Regions from separate parts of the Homo sapiens genome. Here all the other regions are reported to be linked to region 1. Evidence: microRNA targets listed by miRTarBase, many of them from high-throughput screens and not tested one by one. Region 1 holds a microRNA gene; each other region holds the end of a gene's coding sequence.
Evidence for each region. The annotated mature microRNA hsa-miR-548d-5p reads AAAAGUAAUUGUGGUUUUUGCC and lies in region 1 at 3,019-3,040, shown strand. An mRNA with a match to its seed (bases 2 to 7 or 8) in the 3' UTR can be bound and repressed. Matches are read on the target gene's strand: a 7mer-m8 pairs with bases 2 to 8, a 7mer-A1 pairs with bases 2 to 7 and ends in A, and an 8mer does both.

Region 2: the mRNA of ZMYND8 is a reported target of hsa-miR-548d-5p. Seed matches in the 3' UTR shown: 7mer-m8 at 1,454-1,460.
Region 3: the mRNA of NPM3 is a reported target of hsa-miR-548d-5p. The part of its 3' UTR that is shown has no 7-base or 8-base seed match.

The regions. Positions count from the first base shown.
Region 1 is chr17:67,470,515-67,474,579 of GRCh38, reverse strand. It overlaps MIR548D2 (microRNA 548d-2), which reads left to right and starts at 2,995; the gene lies at 2,995-3,091. The region is part of intron 1 of PITPNC1 (phosphatidylinositol transfer protein cytoplasmic 1); the gene reads right to left. It overlaps MIR548AA2 (microRNA 548aa-2), which reads right to left and starts at 3,091; the gene lies at 2,995-3,091.
Region 2 is chr20:47,206,991-47,211,048 of GRCh38, reverse strand. It overlaps ZMYND8 (zinc finger MYND-type containing 8), which reads left to right. Exons shown (of 23, transcript NM_001281775.3): 23 at 152-1,835. The coding sequence ends at 288. Among named protein-coding and RNA genes, the nearest start is that of MIR3616, 42 kb to the right of the region's middle. RefSeq lists enhancers at 1,604-2,227, 2,228-2,853 and a silencer at 3,670-3,964.
Region 3 is chr10:101,778,312-101,782,369 of GRCh38, forward strand. It overlaps NPM3 (nucleophosmin/nucleoplasmin 3), which reads right to left. Exons shown (of 6, transcript NM_006993.3): 4 at 3,947-4,040; 5 at 3,416-3,543; 6 at 3,014-3,321. The coding sequence ends at 3,425. It also overlaps a transcript of FGF8 not described here. Among named protein-coding and RNA genes, the nearest start is that of NPM3, 3.1 kb to the right of the region's middle. RefSeq lists a promoter at 1-2,995, enhancers at 469-1,366, 1,367-2,264, 1,905-2,034, 2,112-2,962, 2,841-3,135 and a silencer at 1,605-1,684.

The DNA.
Region 1 (4,065 bases):
CAGGGCACATTTGACACTGCCTGGAGACATTTTGGTGGTCACTGCTGGGGAAACAGGAGAGGGCACTAAAGCATCTAGAGGGTAGAGGCCAGGGATGCTGCGACACAGCCTGCAATGCACAAGACGGCTCCCACAACAATGAATTATCTGCTCCAAATGTCGGCAGGGCTGAGGTTGAGAAACGTTACTCTAGAGGCCAGGAATTTTGGCCAAGACAATTAAAATTCCAAAAGTCAACTTCCCATTGTCGTCACAGAAAACATCTTGACGGAGAAGACAAAAGCTAATTAGTTGGAACTCCTTCAAGTTCTCCTTCCTGACATGGAAATCGACCCTCCCAAACTTTCCTCTTACCCATTTGTGGGAACAGGGTGTCCCTTGTTTTTGCCAAGACCCCCACCTCCGGATCTCCTTCTCACTGACCTTCCTAGGAACTTCGCTCCATCCACCGCCCATTCCTCCCCCAGCATCTATGCTCCTCCTCCCCACACCTCCTGCTACCTGGCTCACAGTTAGGTTAACTTAAAGTAGTCCATTTTCCCATCTTAAAAACATCTCTCACCCAGAGAATAAAATAAGTACTTGTGAGTCCACACTGATATAAATAAATGAGAGGATAGATAAACAAATACCTGGAGAAGAAACAAATTTCCCTTACAGAAGAATTCCATGTAATAAAGGCAGAAGGCATGGGAGAATAGAAAATCACCAGGAGAACATTACAGTAATAATAGCTGCAGGCAGGGTCCACTGAGGAATGTTAAGTTCATGGGCAAACTTTAAGGGGAAACAGGATACCTGCATAGGCTCAACACATCCCTCCAAAAACATTTATTAGCCAGGTGAGGTGGCATGCACCTGTAATGCCTGCTACTCTGAAGGCTGAGGCATGAGCATCACTTGAGCTCAGGAGTTCAAGGCCAGCCTGGGAAACATAACAAGACCCCATCTCCAAAAAATATTAAAAAGCACACCAGGGCCGGGGGCGGTGGCTCACACCTGTAATCCCAGCACTTTGGGAGGCTGAGGCGTGCAGATCACGAGGTCGGTGAAACCCCGTCTCTACTAAAAAAATACAAAAAAATTAGCCGGATGTAGTGGCGGGCGCCTGTAGTCCCAGCTACTCGGGAGGCTGAGGCAGGAGAATGGCGTGAACCCAGGAGGTGGAGCTTGCAGTGAGCCGAGATTGTGCCACTGAACTCCAGCCTGGGCGACAGAGCGAGACTCTGTCTCAAAAAAACAAGCAGGCCAGGTAAAGTGGCTCACGCCTATAATCCCAGCACTTAGGAGGCCGAGGTGGGTAGACAGCTTGAGCCCAGGAGTTCAAGACCAGCATGGGCAACATAGTGAGACTCTATCTCTAAAAATAAGAATAACTTTTAAAATAATAAAAATACATTAATTGGCCGGGCACGGTGGCTCACACCTGTATTCCCAGCATTTTGGGAGGCCAAGGCGGGTGGATCACGAGGTCAGGAGATCGCGACCATCCTGGCTAACATGGTGAAACCCCTTCTCTACTAAAAATACAAAAAAATTAGTTGGGCATGGTGGTGCGCACCTGTAGTCCCAGCTACTCAGGAGGCTGAGGCAGGAGAATGGCATGAACCTGAGAGGCAGAGCTTGCAGTGAGCCGAGATCAGGCCACTGCACTCCAGCCTGGGCTACAGAGCAAGACTCCGTCAAAAAAAAAAAAATACCACATTAATTATGGTGCTGGTTTTAGCATATGTCCACAAATTCTTTGAAACCCCTCCCTGTAGGAGGCAGGGCCTAATCTCCCTCCCCTGAGTGACTCACTTCTAATGAATAGACGGTAAGCTTGTCCAACCCGTGGCCCAGGACAGCTTTGAATGTGGCCCAACACAAATTCATAAACTTTCTTAAAACATTATGATATTTATGCACAGACCTTTTTTTTTTTTTTTCTTTTGAGACAGAGTTTCCCTCTGTCACCCAGGCTGGAGTGCAGTGGTGCAATCTCGGCTTACTGCAAACTCCTCCTCCTGGATTCACACCATTCTCCTGCCTCAGCCTCCTGAGTAGCTGGGACTACAGGCGCCCACCACCACGCCCGGCTAATTTTTTCTATTTTTAGTAGAGATGGGGTTTCACTGTGTTAGCCAGGATGGTCTCGATCTCCTGACCTCGTGACCCACCCGCCTCGGCCTCCCAAAGTGTTGGGATTACAGGTGTGAGCCACCGCACCCGGTCCTTTTTTTTTTTTTTTTTTTTTTTTTTTTTTTTAGCTCAACAGCTGTCATAGTGTTAATGATGTATTTTATGTGTTGCCCAAGACAATTCTTCTTCCAATGTGTCCCAGGGCAGCCAAAAGATTGGACACCCCTGGAACAGAGTATGGAAAGGGAAATTAGCAGCTTACGGTGGGTAACTCTGGTAGACAACGCCTTAACCAAGTGATCAAGGTTAACTTCACCAGTGAGCAATCAGGTAGATATCATGTGCCCCCTAATATTATGTGATGAGAAGGCCATTTCACCTCTGGGGTATTCTTTCCCCAAACCCCAACTGCAGTCTAATGATCAGAAAACATCAGACAAATCCAGATTGAGGGACATCCTACAAAATACTTGACCAGCCCACTTCATAAATGTCAAAGTCATAAAAAAACAAGGAGAGACAGAGAAATTGACATAGATTGAAAGTGACTATTATGATATAATAATTAAGTGCAACATTATATCCTGATTAAATCCTGGAACAGAAAAAGGACATTAGTGGAAAAAACTGGTGAAATCTGAAGAAAGTCGGGAGTTTAGTTAATACAACTGTGCCCATGTTAATTTTTGAGTTTTGATAAATGTATCATAATTAGTACGATATTAACATTGGGGGAAGGTGGATGAAGACTACGGGGGGTTCTCTGGATTTGCAACTCTTCTGTAAATCTAAAGTTAACTTTAGGGGGTATATGATGTCAACCTGATTTAGCTAAAGTTAACTTTAGATTTACAGAATAATTGCAAATCCAGAGAGAGGGAAGATTTAGGTTGGTGCAAAAGTAATTGTGGTTTTTGCCATTGAAAGTAATGGCAAAAACCACAGTTTCTTTTGCACCAACCTAATAAAATAAAAAGTTTAAAAGGAAAAAAATCTCTCAAATGAAGACGTAGGTCCACACAAGGACTTGTATGTGAATGTTCATTGCAACTTTACTCAAAATCATCCAAAACTGGAAGTAACCCAAATGTCCATCAACTGGTAAATGAATAAACAGACTGTGGTATATCCATTCAGGGGAATGCTACTATGCAATAAAAAGGAACAAACTATTGATACATCCAATAATATGGATGAATTTCTTTTTTTTTTTTTTTTACATTTTTTTTTTTTACATTTTTTTTTTAATTTATTTTTTTATTGATAATTCTTGGGTGTTTCTCACAGAGGGGGATTTGGCAGGGTCATGGGACAATAGTGGAGGGAAGGTCAGCAGATAAACAAGTGAACAAAGGTCTCTGGTTTTCCTAGGCAGAGGACCCTGCGGCCTTCCGCAGTGTTTGTGTCCCTGATTACTTGAGATTAGGGATTGGTGATGACTCTTAACGAGCATGCTGCCTTCAAGCATCTGTTTAACAAAGCACATCTTGCACCGCCCTTAATCCATTTAACCCTGAGTGGACACAGCACATGTTTCAGAGAGCACAGGGTTGGGGGTAAGGTCACAGATCAACAGGATCCCAAGGCAGAGGAATTTTTCTTAGTGCAGAACAAAATGAAAAGTCTCCCATGTCTACTTCTTTCTACACAGACACGGCAACCATCCGATTTCTCAATCTTTTCCCCACCTTTCCCGCCTTTCTATTCCACAAAGCCGCCATTGTCATCCTGGCCTGTTCTCAATGAGCTGTTGGGTACACCTCCCAGACGGGGTGGTGGCCGGGCAGAGGGGCTCCTCACTTCCCAGTAGGGGCGGCCGGGCAGAGGTGCCCCTCACCTCCCGGACGGGGCGGCTGGCCGGGCAGGGGGGCTGACCCCCCCCACCTCCCTCCCGGACGGGGAATATGGATGAATTTCAAAAACATTGTGTTGAGCAAAAGAAGT
Region 2 (4,058 bases), not on the chromosome of region 1:
AGATGCAGGGCAGTCAGCGGTGGCAGTGTTTGAACCATCAATTGGGAGGGGAAGGTGGTTTCCTGTGCAGGAGGGGCAGGTCAGATTGCAGGATAGTTGTGCTCAGGCGCAGGTGGGCAGGCACGCTAAACACATTGGTTTTCCCCCTCAGACCATTCCCGGAGTAATAAATCCAGTTGGAGCAGCAGTGATGAGAAGAGGGGATCGACACGTTCCGATCACAACACCAGTACCAGCACGAAGAGCCTCCTCCCGAAAGAGTCTCGGCTGGACACCTTCTGGGACTAGCAGTGAATCGGGACACAAACCACCCACCCCATTGGGAGAAAAACCCAGACGCCAGGAAAAGAAGAAACAACAAAGGCAGGAGAACAGCCACTTTCAGACTTGAAAATGACAAAACCCTCAGTTGAGCCTGAGCCCCCGGCGCGGGGGCTGCTACACTACAGGACACCCAGCATCGGCTTTGACTGCAGACTGTTCACCCACACGAGCCCTGTGCTTTTGGTGTAAATAATGTACAATTTGTGGATGTCATTGAATCTAGAGGACTTTCCCCTTTTTATATTTGTATTAACTTTAACTTATTAAAAAAAAAAAAAGAAAAAGAAAAACGATTTAAAAAAAAAAAAAAAAGCAACCAACCCCAACAACAAAAAAGAATGTTTTGGTATTGGAGAAGGGATGGTCAGTTAGCCTGTCTGTCACACGACGGAATGGATACTGGGCCCGGGGACCACTTTCATACTCACGTCCTCATCCTTGGATACCCAGGGGAGGGCGAACCGTTTTCGCTCGTGTGTCTGTACGCAGCATGTTGGGATCGGGAGTTTCGGCACAGACTATCCCATCAAGCCGTTGGCTCCTTTCAGCTACTACGTTACCACGTTCCTAAAACGCAAGCTCTCCGGACCAGACGGACACAGGGAGAAGCTAGTTTCTTTCATGTGATTGAAATGATGACTCTACTCCTAAAAGGGAAAAAACAATATCCTTGTTTACAGAAGAGAAACAAACAAGCCCCACTCAGCTCAGTCACAGGAGAGAACACAGAAAGTCTTAGGATCATGAACTCTGAAAAAAAGAGAAACCTTATCTTTGCTTTGTGGTTCCTTTAAACACACTCACACACACTTGGTCAGAGATGCTGTGCTTCTTGGAAGCAAGGACTCAAAGGCAAGGTGCACGCAGAGGACGTTTGAGTCTGGGATGAAGCATGTACGTATTATTTATATGATGGAATTTCACGTTTTTATGTAAGCATGAAACACAGGCAGTATGAGAGAAAGCAAGGCCCGTCATGCTGTCCGTACACTACGTATGCTGTAGAGCCATTTTGTATGTTGTGTAAAACAAAAAGCATTGATGAAAAAGCAAAAGGTGATGTATGTATATGAGAAAATTAATTGTACGATATCATTCCAGTACGTTTTGTTGTACATTTTAGTCTTGTTTACTTTCTCTTCATTGTTAAGAGGATGCGAACTGTACAGTTTCCAGCTAGTTACCCATATTAGAGAAGAAATAAGAGAGTATTAGAAGAAAACAGGAGAGAAAGAACATTTGTGAATTGCAGTTGTCAAAAAAAAAAAATAGCCTAGCTGGCCTTATTTGTGAAGCATAATTGCTTTTAGCATATGGAAGTATTTTTTCACATTTTCTTTGTATAAAATTTGTATTAAACTTAAATATCTTTTTGATGGTGGTGTTTCTTTGTGACTGAGCCAGTAGACTCACACTATATGCTTTTTTGGGTTTGCCCGTTCCTTCCCCCACCCCCCCAGTTTTTTCAGATTTCTTTACCTTTTTTTAATTAAACTGTTTTGGAAAAATGCCGTGGTCGTCCTCGAATTTGCAGTTTTCCATTTGGTCGGGATGGCTGTGTCAGGTTTGCACGACCAAACACAGAAGGGGCCGTGAGAGGTCATGAACACCCCCCACAGCCAGGTGGTGGGCACACTGGAGAGAATGGGCCCTAGTGGGTGCCCCCCACGCCAGTCCTCGTCAAACAGTTGGGAGAGGACGGAGTTGTCTTCTTGAAGCCCGTAGGGAGGCCGAGCTAACAGGCCTCGCGTGGGCAGCAAGGATCCCAGCCCCTCGCAGGTGCCCTGGTCCATGGCTCTGGGCCTGGCTGGAGGTGCACAGGGTATGAGTAGAATGAAGCCGGCTTGAAAGGCTGAGGTTTGGTTTCCTGGGCAGCAGTGTTCCTTCTCTGCAATCCAGTAACTCCCCAGAAAAGATCTCCACAAACCCCTTCCTGTGCCAAGGGCCAAGACATGACATGGCCGGCAGGGGAGGTTGGCCCGCGTGGGCATAAGTTCATTCCTGCCAATCAGCAAACACACATCGCGTCAGGCACTGTCCAGGCACTGAGGATCCCATGGTGCCATCAAGGAGTCGGGTCCCTGCCTTCATCAAACTTGCATCCTAATGGGGACAACAATCGTTCAGTTACTCAAGTATTACAGGGGACCTGTCATTAGCCATGCACAGTTTCAGTTACTGGGGACAGATGGTGAGCAGGGCACAGGAGCCCTGTCAGGGTGGGCCTCTCATTCTTCACAGGAAGACAGACTGTCTACAAGTTATTCTCATTTTTTGTTTTTTTTGAGACGGATTCTCGCCCCGTCACCCAGGCTGCAGTGCAGTGGCGCAATCTCAGCTCACTGCAACCTCCGCCTCCTGGGTTCAAGCAATTCTGGTGCCTCAGCCTCCCAAGTAGCTGGGGATTCAGATGTGCACCACCATGCCTGGCTCATTTTTTGGTATTTTTAGAGACGAGGGTTTCACATATTCCCCAGGCTGGGCTTGAACTCCTGACTTGAAGTGATCTGCCTGTCTCAGACTCCCAAAGTGCTGGGATTACAGGTGTAAGCCATGGCACCTGGACTCTCCTCTTTTTTTGGAGGGAGAGTCTCCATCACCCAGGCTGGAGTGCAGTGGTGTGATAGCTCACTGCAAACTCAGCCTCCCGGGTTGAAGCAATTCTCCTGCCTCAGCCTCCCGAGTAGCTGGGATTACAGGTGCCTACCACCCATGCCCAGCTAATTTTTGTATTTTTAGTAGAGATGGGGTTTTCGCCATGTTGGCCAGGCTGGTCTCGAACTCCTTGTCTCAGGTGATCCACCCACCTTGGCCTCCCAAGTCTTTTTTTTTTTTGAGACAGAGTTTTGCTCTTGTTGCCCAGGCTGGAGTGCAATGGCGCGATCTTGGCTCACTGCAACCTCCGCCTCCCGGGTTCAAGCAATTCTGCTTCAGCCTCCCGAGTAGTTGGGGTTACGGGCATCCACCACCACACCCAGCTAATTTTGTATTTTTAGTAGAGATGAGGTTTCTCCATGTTGGTCAGGCTGGTCTCGAACTCCCAACCCCAGGTGATCCGCCTGCCTCAGCCTCCCAAAGTGCTGGGATTACAGGTGTGAGCCACCGTGCCTAGCCTCCAAGTCATTTTTTTAAGTGAGAAGAATGTTAGCTTCCCGTTCCTGGGCATGTGTGTGCACCTTTCCTCTGTTGTCTCATTTCATCCTGAAGACCAGAGAAAGGAGGGGCCATGGCTACGAGGGGTCATCCATTGTCTTCTTTCAGCTCCTGCCTTTCTAGTCTCAACTGCACTCTCTGCTCCTTTGACCTGATACCCTCTTCTGTGGCTGGTACCTGATTCTTCAGATGTCACTCCTGAAATAGCCACCTGCCCACGGGCCCATCATGCCCTCAATATTTTCTTCATATCTCTGAGCAAAGGGTGTGGGGTTTTATTACTTCTCCTGTGTGTCCCAGTTGAATGTGAGCTGGGTGAGGGAGGTGCTTTCTCTGTTCCCTGCTGTGTCCCCAGGGCTTGGACACAATGAAGGTCATGCCACTCCTAAGTAGCGAGCAGCCAGCAGCTGGGCTCCTAAGTAGCGAGTAGCCAGCAGCGCAGCATTCAAATGCAGAGGCCACCTTGAGGTGTCCCACTGCACCCCCATCCAGCCTCTGCCGCAACCTCCCTTAGAAGCAAAGACATCTAGGGAAGTGGCTTGCTTACTCGAGGATAGAGAAATGGTTGCTTTTAGTTTTAC
Region 3 (4,058 bases), not on the chromosome of region 1:
CGCCCATCCAACAGTGTTTGCATGGTCCTGGGGTCACAGCCAGAGCCACTCTGGGTACCTGCCCCTCCCTGGAATGGGGGTAGGGGCAGAGCCCCTGGCTGAGACCAGCATTCAGCTCCAGCTGTGGAACCCCCAGAAGATTCTGAGGGCCCTGGGTTGACCCTCAATGGTCTTCAGCCACCCTTCTTCCTCTGCCCCAGAGAAGATGGGCGTCCTGGGATCTGAAGGGTCCGAGGTCAAGTTTCAGTCCTGTCCCAGCCTCTGCCAGGGAGCCTGTGCTGGACCAGGATTCCTTTACATTTGGATTTGGAGACCCTCCTGAGAAGCGGACCCTCACCTAGTTCGTTGAAATTCTCATCTCCCCAAAAGTCCGTTTCTCTGGGGGAGAGGAGCAGATGGGGACACCCCGGGAGCAAGCACCTGGCTCTGCCCTGGCACGCCCCGTGACTGACAGATGCAAATGTCCCGCCGGGCCCCCGCAGGCCGCTCCCTCCCTTGCTGGCTCGCCCGCCTCCCGGCCAGCTCCCTCCCTCCTTTATCTTATCAAAGCCCGGTAATTACAATTGCTATTTTGTTTCCTCGAATCTGCAATCAGAGCTCCCTGGCCCAGATGAGGGAGCGCCTGTCAACCTGATCGCTGAGTGACAGCCCGGCCACCTTTCCTGGCCGCCCCCACACTCCGCAAACACAAACACACACACGCACAGACACAAACTCCCTCGCCTGCAAACACAAACACACACTCCTCGCCAACACAAACGGCCCATCTCCGCAGACACGCCCTCGCCTGCACCCAGACACACTACTTCAGCCTATTTCCAAACGCACCCCTCGATCCCAGCCCATCCCCCGGCCCCTCCAATCCACACCCGCCGGAGACCGCAGCTCGCTCCGACGCGCGCTTCCTGCGCCGGGCGTTCAAAGCGCCGCGGACTCACTGCCGACCGTTCAAATGCAAATCGCCGAGACTACGTTAAGCACTTCGGCCACTGTCTGGGAGTCGTCTCCCTCGGCCCCCAAATAGAAGCCTGCCCTTCCTCCAGCAGTCGGCAAACCCCGGCGTATGCCTTCATCCCCCAGGGGTCTGAGGCCACAGTGAGCCGGCAGCGCTCCTACTGTGCGCTGAAGGGCAAAGAAGAGGGCTCGAGGAGAGGCTGGGGCGAGGAGAGAGGAATAAACCTTGCCCAGCTGTGTCCGCGGGGCGCCCCAACCGGCCGAGAAACTCTTGGGCCGAGAGGCTGATGTGGATTGGGCCCCCACTGCGGGCAGGAGCGTGCTCGGCGCAGGCCCGCGCCCACCGGGAGACCTACCCGGAAAACCGGCGAGAAATGCAAGGAGCGATCAGTGGCATCGCGGGGGGTGGGTGGGGTAAATATTGGGGCGGAGCCGCGCAGGGGGTAGATGGGTCAGCTAGGGAGGCCTCCCAGGAGAGAGGACTCAGCCAGTCTCCCGCTCCTCCTGCCAAGCACGTGCCGAGGACTTTGGAGGCTGGGGCCAAGAAGAGGAAGGGAAAGAGGAGTGAGGGCCACAGCCAGACTTCCCCACTCCAACTCAAGTCGTTCGAATGAATGAATGAACGTATGCACGCATGCATGCAAGCCTCAGTGGCATTCCCCCGCCTTCCGCCCAAGATTCGGCCGCCCAGAGCAGTGGCGGGACTCGGAGGCCCCGGCCCCACGGCGCCCGCCCGGAGCCTCTAGAGGCCAGGGAAGCGGTACGACCACGAGCGGCTTCAACCTCGCCCGCCAGAGGGCGCCAGCCCCGACTTCCCTCTCCCTGCCGACCGCGCTCCGCAGCGAGACCCATGGTTCCCAGCCAGGCCGCCCCTCCGCCGGGCTCCCCAGGGAAGCATTTTTAGCAGCGCCCTCCTGGATCGGAGAAAGGCGCCTGCGACCCAGATCACCGCAACACAGACGGGCGTCATCTCCCTTTGTCCTCAACTTGAGGAAGAGGGAGGTTGGAAACTGGACCCCTAGTTCCTCACCACGGGCTGGGGGAGAACCTCCTTCACTAGGGATGCGCTGAAGAGCGTGCGGGTCGGTACTGCGGACGCAAGGTCTTCAAAGCTGACCTCACCTGCCCCAGAACCACCAGCCCGCGATATCCCGGGGCCCCTCCCCCTTGACTAGAGGCTGGGAGTGGGAGTTGGCCTGACCCCCATCAGGCCCTGTTCTCTGTCTATCCTCAGCCTGTCTGGCCCCAGGTTGTCTGGGGAGGCAATGTTTTGTTTGTTTGTTTGTTTGTGGGCATTGACAACCCTCCCCCCACAACCAACACAGCTGCTGAACTGCTGACCCCAGAGCTGGTCACATACACTCATCCTCAAACCAGGTGTGTCAGTTCTTCCTGGCACAAAGGCAGCCAAGTGCCAGAACTACCTGATTCCAGGCACCAAAGACCCCCAGACCCCACGGTGTGTGGGGGACAAGAATCCCTTAGTCCAGGAGGCAAATTCCCTGGGGCCCCTTTCTGCCCCCATATGCCAGGCCACCCGGATTCTGGTTTCCCTGTCACCCAATCTGGCCAGTCCCCTCCATCTGGCCCCCGGAGTCAGGTTTCTCTAAGGGCCCAGCCCTGCTCAGAGACAGCCTGCAAGGCTCAAAGGAGGAGCGAAGCCTGGTCCCGCCCTGCCCTCACAGGCCCTCTCTGGGCCAGAGACCCTCGTGGGGCTAGGGACGCGCATTCCTCAGGCTGCCTAAGCTCGCTTATCTGCCCCCCTGCCCATCAGCCGAGTGCTGACAGAGGCCCAGACCCCTTGTTTGGATGCTGATAACCTCCTGCGATGACCCTCTCCCACCTGCAGAGACTGGGAATGGGCTGAGTGTTGGGAGGTCCCCTTCCAGCAAGGCAACTGGGGCCCAGGCCCCAGGTCCTAGCCCAGGGCCATGAGGGTAGAGGATCCCACAGTTCTCCACCCTCCCCCAGGCCCAGGGCCACGCTGGGTGCTTCCACAGTGCCACCTGGCGGTCCCTAGGGAAACATCACCCAGCACAGGAAGAAGCCACACAAGAGCTGCAAAAACTCCACACCACTTTATTTCAACCTTTATCCAAAAATGTAAAAACTATTAAAAATGTGTAGCTCTGAGCTTCAGGCACTAACCTCCAATTCTCACAGGCAGGTGGGAAGGGAGGCCCCGGGCATGGTGAAAATCAGAAAACCACGGCTGTGTGGAGCACAGGCCCTCTCCTAGCACCAAAGACCCAAGTCCCTCCCACCCAACCCCCACCCAAGCTCTCCTCTTCAAGGAAGAAATATTTACAATTGTTGAAACTTGTCAGGGAACAGGGTGCATGGCGGTGCATGGCACATGGAGCTGACCTGAAAAGAGGAAACAAGGAATCAGCATTTAGGCCCTCACCTGCTTCTCCTGCCCCTTCCCAGAGCCTGCTAGGCACTTCTCCCCGCAACTCACCTAGGAGGGCTAGGGCCTGCCCCCCTGCTTTTTGGCAGGAAGGATGGGGCACAGCTCAACTTCTTCCTCATCACTGTCCTCTTCCTCTTCCTCGCTCTCCTCCTCAGAAACATCATTGCTCATCGTAACTGGTGGACACACAAGCAGTAGAAGGATGGGGTGTTAAGACCAGACCGTTTCACACCGCATGCCATTTCTTCACGCCGTGGTGTTAGGCTTACAGGGACCATGACCTCCCAGTGCTTATGGGCTAGGTGGGAAGAACCTCAGACCCTAAACTGGGTCACAAAGAGCCAAAGGAGTCTTCATTATTGGAGCTGGAGAAGTTGGGCCATGTTCCATGGAGGAGGTAGGCTTGAGTAGACGGAAAGGAGAGGGCATGTCATGCACAGGGCACAGCGTGGAGGGCACACAGACCTGTACAGGGCTGCACTGGGAGATGAGGGTGGGATGGGGCAGGAGTGCGGAGTGGGGGAAGCCTGATGGGAGAGTCCACTGGAAGCAAAGGAGAGGGCCCTCCCCTCTTCTCACCAATCTGGTGCCGCCCAGTGATCCGCACAGGGCCAGAGCCCGACTTCAGGCGGAAGGTTACAGGTGGTTGGAGCTGGAAGTCATCCAGACTGAGCTGGGAGGAAGACAAGGA